2 separate regions of the Homo sapiens genome follow, and region 2 is linked to region 1. Evidence: fine-mapped expression QTL. A gene starts in region 1. The other region holds a variant in brackets. All regions are shown on one strand. Distances are from middle to middle.

Region 1 (5,384 bases):
CGTCACGTGAGAATACCAGTTTCTAAAATAAACAGTAATACTGTAATATATTAAAGTAGAAAAAAAGAGCAGAAATAGTCAATTGTAAAGGGCTACTCAAAAGTTACATCTGTGAAAAACATATGGATTGATCTATATCCTTCTAGACTGATCTAGACTACAGATGATTCAGTTTACATGGTCAATTACTTTCAAATTGGTAAGGGAAGACTGCTCTGATCAGCACCTAATAAAAAAAAAAGGTGGAGGAGGGGGTGTTAAATTTAGCCAGTCTTACTACAACTGTTCTAATAGCTCTTCCCATTTATATTTAAAGCAAGAAAAATTGAATGTGCTCAACAGTTATAGTAATACATATGCACCAATTCTAAAAACCTTTATAGATGTTAACTGGGCTACCCACTGGCATGGTGTGCTAGTGTGCCTGGGAATTATGCATGACAGAGCCATGTTAAAAAAAAAAGTTTTCTATTATTACCTATGTCGCCACAAAACAGGTTAAGTTTTCAATGCAGAAAGATCCTTATTGTCATCAAAATACTTCAAACACAGTAATTTAAGCACATACACATTGCTTAGAAATGGAAAAATAAGACTAAGGTGAATCATTGTTATGTTTGATAATGGCAGTTCTAATTTTTTAGTACTTTGTTTTACACCTGTTTCTCAAAGTGGAAAACTATATCTGAGGAGGAGAATAATAAAAACTAGTATCTATTGAACATAGTACCACACAGTGCAATAAATTCTTTTCATGTACTATCTCATTTAATCCTTAATAATCTTAAAAGGTATCGACTATAACTATCCCCATCTCAACTAAAGGTCATGAATAAACAATTTATCCAGGAAGTAGCTGAGATAGATTTTAACCCAGAGCCTAGAACCAAGATAAATGGGAGAAGAAGGAAGTTGCTGAGGAAAATCAGAGATTTAACTCACAATGTAGAAAGGCATACTGTTTATTGATGATAGATAGTCCCTCCCTATAACCTGGAATAGTTTTCAATCTTGGCTACACATTAGAATCACCTGTGAGATTTTATTTATTTATTTATTTATTTATTTATTATTTTAACTGTCCACTCCTAGGACCCTCACTTAGTATTTGGCCTTCAACTGGCCTGGGGTGGAGCAAAGACAATGGTCTTTTTTTAAAGACACCCAGGATTCTAATGGACAGCTAAGTTTGAAAACCACTAATAATTATTTTCTACCCTATTAACCTCTCCACGTAGCCAACTACAATCAAGTTTACTGATTACCTAGGTTCTGAGCACTTTGCCCACTATTGCATTTTCCACTTGCCCAACAAAGTGCTTAGCTTTTCTTCTCCTTAACAGAGGAAACATTACAACTACAGCGTCGCCTTTTTAAATGACAAAATTCTCTAGCTTTTCTTTGACATGAGGAATGTAGAAGGAGGGATAGATGGCATGACAAAGTTTGGAAATCACTTCTTTAAGCATCCACATACTCCTTAGGCTTAAAACAGTGCAAAAAGGTCCTAAAAGTCAAAATAAAATCAAATGGCAGGTTATGAATTCTGTGATATATGTTAAAAGTTTAATATCCATGATATTTGGTTATACTTCTTAAGCTGGTGACAACACTTAGAAAGTATTATTGTGGTGAATTAAATTCCACTGTCTTGTCATGGTGCTGTGATGGCAATTATGCAGTGTTTTTACCCTGTTAAGTCACCTGAACATAAACTAACAGGTACTAAAGAAATTAAAGCATTACATAAGCATACTCAAACAACAATATGGCTGGTCATACGAGAAATGCAATTATTTTGCTGACAAACTTATATGAGAAGTCTTACTGTTTCCCTAAGTTATTCACAGCACATCCCACTCACTCTTCACCAAAATATAATGAAGACTATTCCAGACATTCTCAGACTTGCTGGCTCTTTTGTTTCACTGAAAAGGTGAAGAAGTACAGAGATACCTGACAAGTATGGAAGTCTGATCTATTATTTGAACAAGAGATCTAAAATGAGAGAGTATCAATGTAATACATCAAGTGGTACAAAACTGTGGACTTCATAGTGAAACATTACAAAACTTCCTGCTTCCGGACAGCTCATTATTTGGTTCAAGGCTTCACATTCCTTTGTCATGGTCTTTCCGAAAGCTTTCATTCCTTATTAATATCAGACTTTTAATGTTACTAGTGGGACTTTCCAAATTAACAAGCCCCAAGTTCGTGCCCCAAGGAGGAGCTTCAGGACTACAATTTTCCCTCAGTAACCTGAGCAGAGTGTATGTCCCTCACGTAGTTGTTGTTGTTGTTGTTGTAAACATATTTCTTTCTGTATATCTTAAATTTGTGTTCAACTATATATTTTTATCACGTACAATTACAAGAACTTGCATTAGTTCTGCGGAAATTAGTGGAAAAACTGGGAGACCTGTGGGTATGTGTGAAATAGACACGAAACGGAGCTTCGCTGCCAATTGTCACTGGGGTCTCACACGGCCCAGATCTGGCCTCTGAGCCATGTCACTGGGTGCAAAGGCACAGACAACCACAGGGTAACTGGGCGAGAAAACAAGGAGGCTCCCTGTCAATACACGTACTTCCACCCTGAAGAGGAAGGGTGGCCCGCAGGGCAGACCCTAATGAAAACCCGTGCCTACTGGGATCGTCACATCGCCCGGGCCTGTAGGGCCTGCTAAAGGGGTGTGTGGAGGAGGAAGGACAGCGTCCGTCCCCACTTCGGAGACCCAAACAAATGAAAATAAGCCAAGTTCTCACTTCCTGGTTGCCTACTCTTTCGGAAGGCCCCCGACACCAGACGGACACAGGGGAAACGGGGCTCCCGTGGAGTAACGGGGCCCACCCCAGCCCGCACCTCCCGCCCTCGCCCTCCTCCGGGCCTTACACGGTGACGTGACCGGAGCCGCGGACGACCACCGGGTCCGGCGAGTACTTGAGCAGCTGCTCCTCCAGGGCCCGCTCCTCGTCCTCCTCTTCCTCATAGATTTCGTCGAAATCCGCCATCCTGAGCCTCCGAGCTCCCCTGCCCAAAGGGCCTGACTCCCGGGGTTGGCGCCGGGGTACCGGCGGGCGAGGCGGCGGAGGCTGAGGGGAGTCGCCGCTGCCGCCGGCTCCGAGGCCGCGGAGTTCGCTGTCGGCTGTCTCGGCTCCGGCTACAGAGGGGATGGGGTCTGGACCGTCGCCGCCACCGCCGCCGCCATTACCATCAGCAATAACAACAACACAATGTCAACATCCGCCCAGAGGCCGACACCTCCACAAGCACAGACGCCGCTGCCGCCGCCGCAGCAGCAGCAACTCAGGAAACCACAGCAACAGCCCGAGCCACCCGCAGCGGGAGCAGCCGGCTACGGCATCGCGAGACTTCCCGGGCCAACGGGCGGGCGGGCGCGTGCGTGGGCGCGTGGGCGAGCGGACTGGCTGGCGGGCGGGCGGGCGCGCGCACGTGCGGCCTCGCGCGCTCCCAGGCCACCGTCTTTCCTCTGCTTCTACCCGCAGACGGCGACCGGGGCGCGCGCTCCCGCCGGCGGGCCCCCCTCCGCCGACTTCTGGGTGGCGGACCCTGGGGGCGGCGGCTCCGCTGACTGGAGGCCGCGACCCGCGACTCCGACAACGCAGCTTGGAATGTCCAGTGGGACATGCAGTTCCCCAAAGTCATCTCTAACCAAAACAAACAACTGAAAAGAAAAGCCCTGGCTGGAATAGACACATTTTTGTGCGTGTCATTGCCAGTTTATCTAATAATCGCATCTCGCTTTTCCTCAGGTTTTGAGTCTATGATGAGAACCAGAGTCTCTTTTTTCCCAATTTGAGGAGTCCAGCAGAGACACTGCAAACATTTGTGCTCACCACAGGATTTTTCAAGACATCTCCAAATTCAAACATCTTATCCCTTGATCCCCTTAAGTATAATCCAATATATGAGGCCAGCGATGCTGGTATTTTTTTTTTTTTCTTACAAGAAATCTCACCGTAGTCATGCTATGAAAAAAAACTGATAAATTACCTGGATTCCATATTAGAAGATGCAGTTTCTTGCCCCAACTCTCTCACCAAACATAACCTGGTTTTTGTTGTTGTTTCCTTAAAATCTTAGGGAATTCCTTTCCTTTTCTTACCAGTTCCTACCACAAAAAAGACCTGAAAGAAAGGGCAGAGGAGAGGAAGAAAAGGAGGCAGGAAGGAAGAAAGGATAGAAGGAAGGACGAGAAGAATGAAAGAAGAATGGGAGAGAAAGAAAGAAGGGGAGGAAGGAAGGAAAAGGTTTAATGGAGTCTACTTAGCTGCCTAGTAACAGTTGAACGGTCACTTTGGGTACTTGGTTTCATTAAGCATATAAACAGCACAGGGGAAGGAGTGGGCTTCTGAGAAGAGAGTCCTGGACAGTGAGGATACACCATGGGAGAAGAAAGGATAGTTCTACTGAGCCCAGCGCTGGTCAGGCTCTTCAAGTGCAGTGTTCATGTCACAGTAGTCGGCTTTAGATGGGTCACTGTTGACGTGGAGAAAGTGCAAAGGAGGTCAATGAGGACAGTGAGAGATGCCAACCTCCTTTTGGAAACAACTGAAGGAAATGAGTGTGGTTAGCCAAGAAAAAATGAAGGAAAAATACAGTAGTTGTATCAGACTTATTGTATCCCTCCCTGGAGGGTATTTGTTCATTCAACAAATATCTACTGAACTCTAGCTATGTGGCAGGCACTGTGGACGTGTGTGAATGAGGCACAGGCCCTGACTTCTGGTAGCTTATCTATTGTTAAGGCAAGCAATTGTCATCTCTGCCAGGGGCTCATGGAGGAGGACACAGGAAGTGTCAGTGGGGCACACAGGAGGCAGCTTGGTCTGGTGTTTAACAATGTGTGTTCTGGAACCTGACTACCTGGCCTTGAATGTCAGCTCTGCCACTTACTGTGTGACCCTAGACAAGCCACTTAACTTCCCTGTTCAGTACCTGCCCCATTGGGATGCTCAGCAGATTCAAGGGCTTAAGATCGGTGAAGTGCCTAGAAGAAGGCCCAGTACACAATAAATACGGGGTAATAGGTGATGCTTAAGGCTCCCTAGCTTATCAACCCTGTGAGGGTTACCACAGCATTATGTAATATTTTACTGCTTATAAAGCACGTACATAATATATCATTTAATATTCCCCCAAGAACCTGTGAGGTAAGCAAAGAGGGTGTATTTATTTTCAGATATGCTATGTTTCAGAGATGCTATGATATGCTATATTTCAGAGATGCTATGTGGCTTTCTCAAGGCCATGTGACGATTTAAGATTTAATGGTCTAATTGAGTATACTGGTGGTCCAAGCTTTCCTGAATGTCTTTTTTTTTTTTTTTTTTAAGACAGAGTCTCACTCTCTCACCTAGGC
Region 2 (5,384 bases), 150 kb before region 1:
TCAGGCTGGTGGACTTGATTCCCAAGGCAACCACAGGAAAGCACCAAAGGTTTTTGATGCAAGCAGGAACATGATGGGAGCTAATTTTAGGAAAATTGGTCTGCCATGAAGATGTGGAGCAGATTCAAAGGGAAAGCAGAGACAAGGAGGCCAAGGAAGGCACTGTTAGTGCTTAAACAGATGTAACGAAGTTTTGTGGTAGACACAACCCAAAAGGAAAGACAGGTACAAGTGTAAGACGCACAGTGTTTCAAAGTGTTTTGCCAACAAAGTAAATGTTGAAAAGCGAAGTTATAGCGAGGGAAGACTGAAAAAGTAATTCATAAAAGCACTAAGGGAAGGCTGAAATGCTGGGTGGGGTAAGAAACTCAGGAGTTTGGCCTTGAGTGTGTTGACTTGGATACTTCTACAAAATATAGATGGGGAGATGTCCAAGGAATCGCTGAAAACCAGGACTGGTGCTCAGAGAAAGGTTAGAAGAAGGTCACATTCCAAATCAAGGTATACCTGGCTGATGCTTGAAGACCATCATGCTTGAAGACCATCATTCTGGAAGACCATCTTGACATCCCAAATCACAGTTTGACACCATTTGCCATCTCTCTTCCAGGTGCTGTGCTGTTGGTTTAGGAATGCGGTTTTCTTGGATCTTGTATGGTTTCCACTTGTCTTGATATTGATATACAATGGCTTTTAAATGCCCAATATAAAAACAAGCATTGGGCCAGGTGTGGTAGCTCATGGCTGTGATCCCAGCACTTTGGGAGGCTGAGGCAGGTGGATCACTTGAGGTCAGGAGTTTGAGACCAGCCTGGGCCACACTATTAAACCCCATCTCCACTAAAAAGACAAAAATTAGCTGGATGTGGTAGCACACACCTGTAGTCCCAGCCACTTGGGAGGCTGAAACAGGAGAATTGCTTGAACCTGGGAGGCAGAGGTTGCAGTGAGCCAAGATTGCACTGCTGCACTCCAGCCTGGGTGACAGAGTGAGACCTTGTCTCAAAAAAAAAGCAAGGATTGCCATGAAACCTGAATTAGTCCCAGAGGGAGGGAAAGAGAATTCTTATTTGCTTTACAAATGGATAATTCCTATAGAAAATGCTAGTGCTCTGAAGACATTTTTTAAAACATGATCTGGTTTATATACAAGTAATTACAACAGCTTTCTAGGCAAACCTTCATTTAAAAAGTAAGGTATGGCAGGGCACAATGGCTCACGCCTGTAATCCCAGCACTTTGGGAGGCCAAGGCAGGTGGATCACGAGGTCAGGAGTTTGAGACCAGCCTGGCCAGCACGGTGAAACGCAGTCTCTACTAAAAATACAAAAAATTAGCTGGGCATGGTGGCACATGCCTGTAGTCCAGCTATTTGGGAGGCTGAGGCAGGAGAATCACTTGAACCTGGGAGGTGGAGGTTGCAGTGAGCTGAGATCATGCCACTTCACCCCAGCCTGGTAGACAAAGCGAGACTCCGTCTCACAAAATAAAAATAAAAATAAAAAGTAAGGTATATTCCAACATTTTGGACAGACTTACAACTTTGTTCTTGGGGAAAATGAAAGCAATGTTACTGGAAGGAAGATAGGACGTTAGGCGGCAGTATGGTGTATTGAAAAGACCTGGAATCAGGTTTAAATCCAGAGGTGCCCCTTATTAGGTATATGAGCATGAATACATTGCTTCACTGCTCTGAGACACAATTTCCACATCTCTACAAGAAAATAATAGAATGTTCTGTCCAAAGTTACTGTATTGCATAAGGTAATGTATATGAAATTGCTTTGCACAGGACTTGGCACAAAGTAGCTGCTTAATAAAAAGCTTAGAGTTCCTTGTGGTGGTCCAGTTGGAATCCCTTCTGGCCCCAAAATGAATGTCTCCCCCTTGACTCCTTCCCTGGGGTGCACCATGCCCCCTAGCCGTAATTCTTATTCAGAGCTTTGCTCTCTTGGAGATGTTTCTCTTTATCCATAACACATTGGGGCATTCAGGAATGCTGGTCCTGCCCTTTAGCTGGAGGACAATCATTTCAGACCCAAACCAGGCACTACGTGAAGGAGGTTCCAAACTCCAAACAGTGCCAGGTCCTTCTCTCCTCCACTTCAGGACCAGATGAAGACATCCTTCTTGGCTCTTTATTCTCTCAGCCTCCAGGAAAGAGTCAGACAACCCTTATAATCATGACTTCTTATTAAGCATTTACAGAATCATGCTATATGGCATCATTCTGGGTCCTTGGTTATGAAATCTTATACTTTAAGTATGCATTACTTTTAAATGACAAAAACCACAATTACTTTTGCACCAACCTAATACTTTTGTGAACAGTATTTTCTTTGATCTCTACAATAAGTCTATGGGAAAATAATGAGGTAGTTAAGAGCACAGACTGAGTGGGTTCGAACTGGAGCTCTACGACTCACTAGCTGTGTATACCCGGGCAGTTACTCATTCTCTCCATGCCTCAGTTGCCTCCTCTGCAAAATGGGGATAATAAGAGCACTTATCTCATGTGAGTTACTGTAGAGCTTAAATAATATATCTGTGAAAGCTCCTAGAACAGTGCCTGACACACAGCAAGTACGTTCAATTGCATTGTAGCCCATACTCTTCCAATGAGAAAACTAAGGCTTAAAAAGGTGAGGCAACTGCCTCAAAGTCACATGCCTTAAATGACAGTGCTATATGAAAAAAATCTCAATATCATTAATCATTAGAGAAATGTGAATCAAAACCACAATGAGATACCATCTCACACCAGTCAGAATGGCTATTACTAAAAGTCAAGAAATAACAGATGCTGGCAAGGTTGCAGAGAAAAGGGAACACTTATACACTGTTGGTACGAGTGTAAATTAGTTCAACCATTCTGGAAAGCAGTGTTGTGATTCCTTAAAGAACTAAAAACAGAACTACCAATCAAACCAGCAATCCCATTACTGAGTATATACCCCCAAAAATATAAATCATTCTACCCTAAAGA[C/T]ACATGCATGTATATGTTCATTGCAGCACTATTCACAATAGCAAAGACCTGGAATCAACCTAAATGGCCATCAATGATAGACTGGATAAAGAAAATGTAGTATATATACACCATGGAATACTGTGCAGCCACAAAAAAAGAACAAGATCATGTCCTTTGCAGAAACATGGATGAGGCTGGAGACCATCATCCTTAGCAAAGTAACATGGGAACAGAAAACCAAATACCACATGTTCTCACTTATAAGTGGGAGCTAAATGATGAGAACACATGGGCACAAAGAGGGGAACAACAGATACCGGGGCCTACTTGAGGGTGGAGGATGGGAGGAGGGAGAGGATCAGAAAAAATAACTGTTAGGTACTAGGCTTAGTACCTTGGTGATGAAATAATCTGTGCGCCAAACTCCCATGACACAGGCTTACCTATGTAACAAGCTTGCGCATGTATCCCTGAACCTAAAATAAAAGTTAAAAAACAAAAATAAATGATAGTGCTAGAACTTAAACTAAGAACTCTCTTGACAACCAGGACCACACATAATTTGATTAAAAGAAAGCAAAATAAAAGTCTCTTTTATTCCCTCTTTTTTAGAGAGTTTCTTCATCAGAGCTACCTGTGTCTTGCTCATTCCTCTCCCTTCCTTCTTTCTCCCCTCAAAAGATTAAAGGTTACATTGTGAAAAAAAAAAAAAAAAGTTTTGTATTGGGATCACATCTAAGGTTGACTGCTTGCTCTCTCATTCCTCAGCTAGTCCATTCTGTGGGTCTTCCTCATCTTGAATCAGATTCTCTGATAAGCTCATTACTCCATTTATCTGTTTAGCAAATACTAATTGAGTCAGCATCCTCCTAGGTACTAGATGCAACGATACAGTCCCACCCCCCGGGTGACAGTGTAGTTAGTCAAGTCATTGTTTACTAGAAGTAACTGAGTTACCAAAGGAAATTATGAAATGTTCTTCTCTTTAAAAATAGGATAGCTTCTTAGTCAGCTGCCTGTCTGGCTAACTTATCTAGAAGACAAGAGAGCAAAGGCCTGGGAGAGATTCATATCAAACAGAGGGGAGGCTAGTTCTTTGTAATTTGACTAACAGCCCAGAACAGAGCTGAGAAGACCCAGGCAACGTATATTTTGTATGCCATTGCTTTTAATGGCTGCAATTACTTTTACACCAACCTAATATAGCAAGGCAGTGAAGAGCCAGGTCTTGGTAAGAATAATGTGATTTTTGCATCACAGCCCTGCCATTTACAAATGGTACAATATCATGCAACTTCCTGAGCTCTTTCTCAGCTTCCTTATGATATTCCTCATGCAGTTGGGCAAGATGTTAAGAAAATGGGTATGCAAAATGCTTGGCACTGAGCCTGCCACATAGTGGGTGTTCAATAAGTGGTGACTTACAATGTTATAATAGGGCAAATTATAACGGGCTGGGGAAGGGCATGATGCATAGGGCAAGCTCACCTAGATTGTGCTTCTAAAAGGGGCTGCCATCTGCTACAACAGGCTTCCAGAAAAGTCTAAGCCAGGTTTGCTGCCATTGAGTACTGGACCAAGCTGTCAACCTCTAGAATGGAAATGCCTTCAAGCTACTAATGTCATCAAGTAGCCAAGTCACCGTCTTATGTAAAAGCTTCGACTTTGTTTCTCTGATTTCATCTTTGCCCTCTATTGTCTAATCTTAACACAGTTTCCAAAGAATAAGTAAGTCAGATATGCCATTCCTCTGCCTCAAGTCTCCCAGTGGACATCTTTTTCTTGCAGAATAGGCCATTGGTATTAAAAAGAGCTTGGCCAGGCGCAGTGGCTGATGCCTGTAATCCCAACACTTTGGGAGGCTGAGGCAGGCAAATAACTTGAGCCCAAGAGTTCAAGACCAGCCTGGAAAACATGGTGAAACCCCATCTCTACAAAAAAAATACAAAAAAAATTAGCCAGGCATGGTGGTGTGTGCCTGTAGTCCAGCTGCTCTGGAGGCTGAGCGGGGAGGATTGATTGAGCCCGGGAGGTGGAGGTTGCAGTGAGCTGAGATTGTGCCATGACACTCCAGCCTGGGCAACAGAGCTAGACCATCTCAAAGAGAGAGCGAGAGAGAGAGAGCTTGTTGTTAGTCCAAAAACATGCTTCTTCCTCCAGGCAGACACAATCCTGCATCAAGGCACAAGGCTTGGTGAGCTCAGGCATTACGGTGCAGTGAACAGATCTGCACAATGCTAGGCTTCCTGGCCACTTCCTCTCTCACTTCATCTCCTGTTACTCTTCTCCTCACCCTCTCTGATCCAACTGCACTTGAGTTCTTTGAACAGCCCATGCATGCTTCTGCCTGGGTTCCTTTGCACTTATCATCCCCTCTGTCTGGAAGCCTCATCCCCTAGACAGTCTCTGTCTTGCT

What was found. PIP is the estimated chance that this variant, and not a neighbour inherited with it, causes the effect.
Region 2: its variant is fine-mapped to the expression of CHIC2 in whole blood (TOPMed, PIP 0.95).

Annotation. Positions count from the first base shown.
Region 1 is chr4:54,061,289-54,066,672 of GRCh38, forward strand. CHIC2 (cysteine rich hydrophobic domain 2) reads right to left here and starts at 3,317. Exons shown (of 6, transcript NM_012110.4): 1 at 2,894-3,317. The coding sequence starts at 3,012. RefSeq lists enhancers at 2,725-3,225, 5,222-5,384 and silencers at 3,025-3,154, 3,385-3,624.
Region 2 is chr4:53,910,569-53,915,952 of GRCh38, forward strand. The region is part of intron 1 of LOC124900702 (a long non-coding RNA gene); the gene reads left to right. Among named protein-coding and RNA genes, the nearest start is that of CHIC2, 150 kb to the right of the region's middle. The variant C/T (reference allele first, on the strand shown) is at 2,987.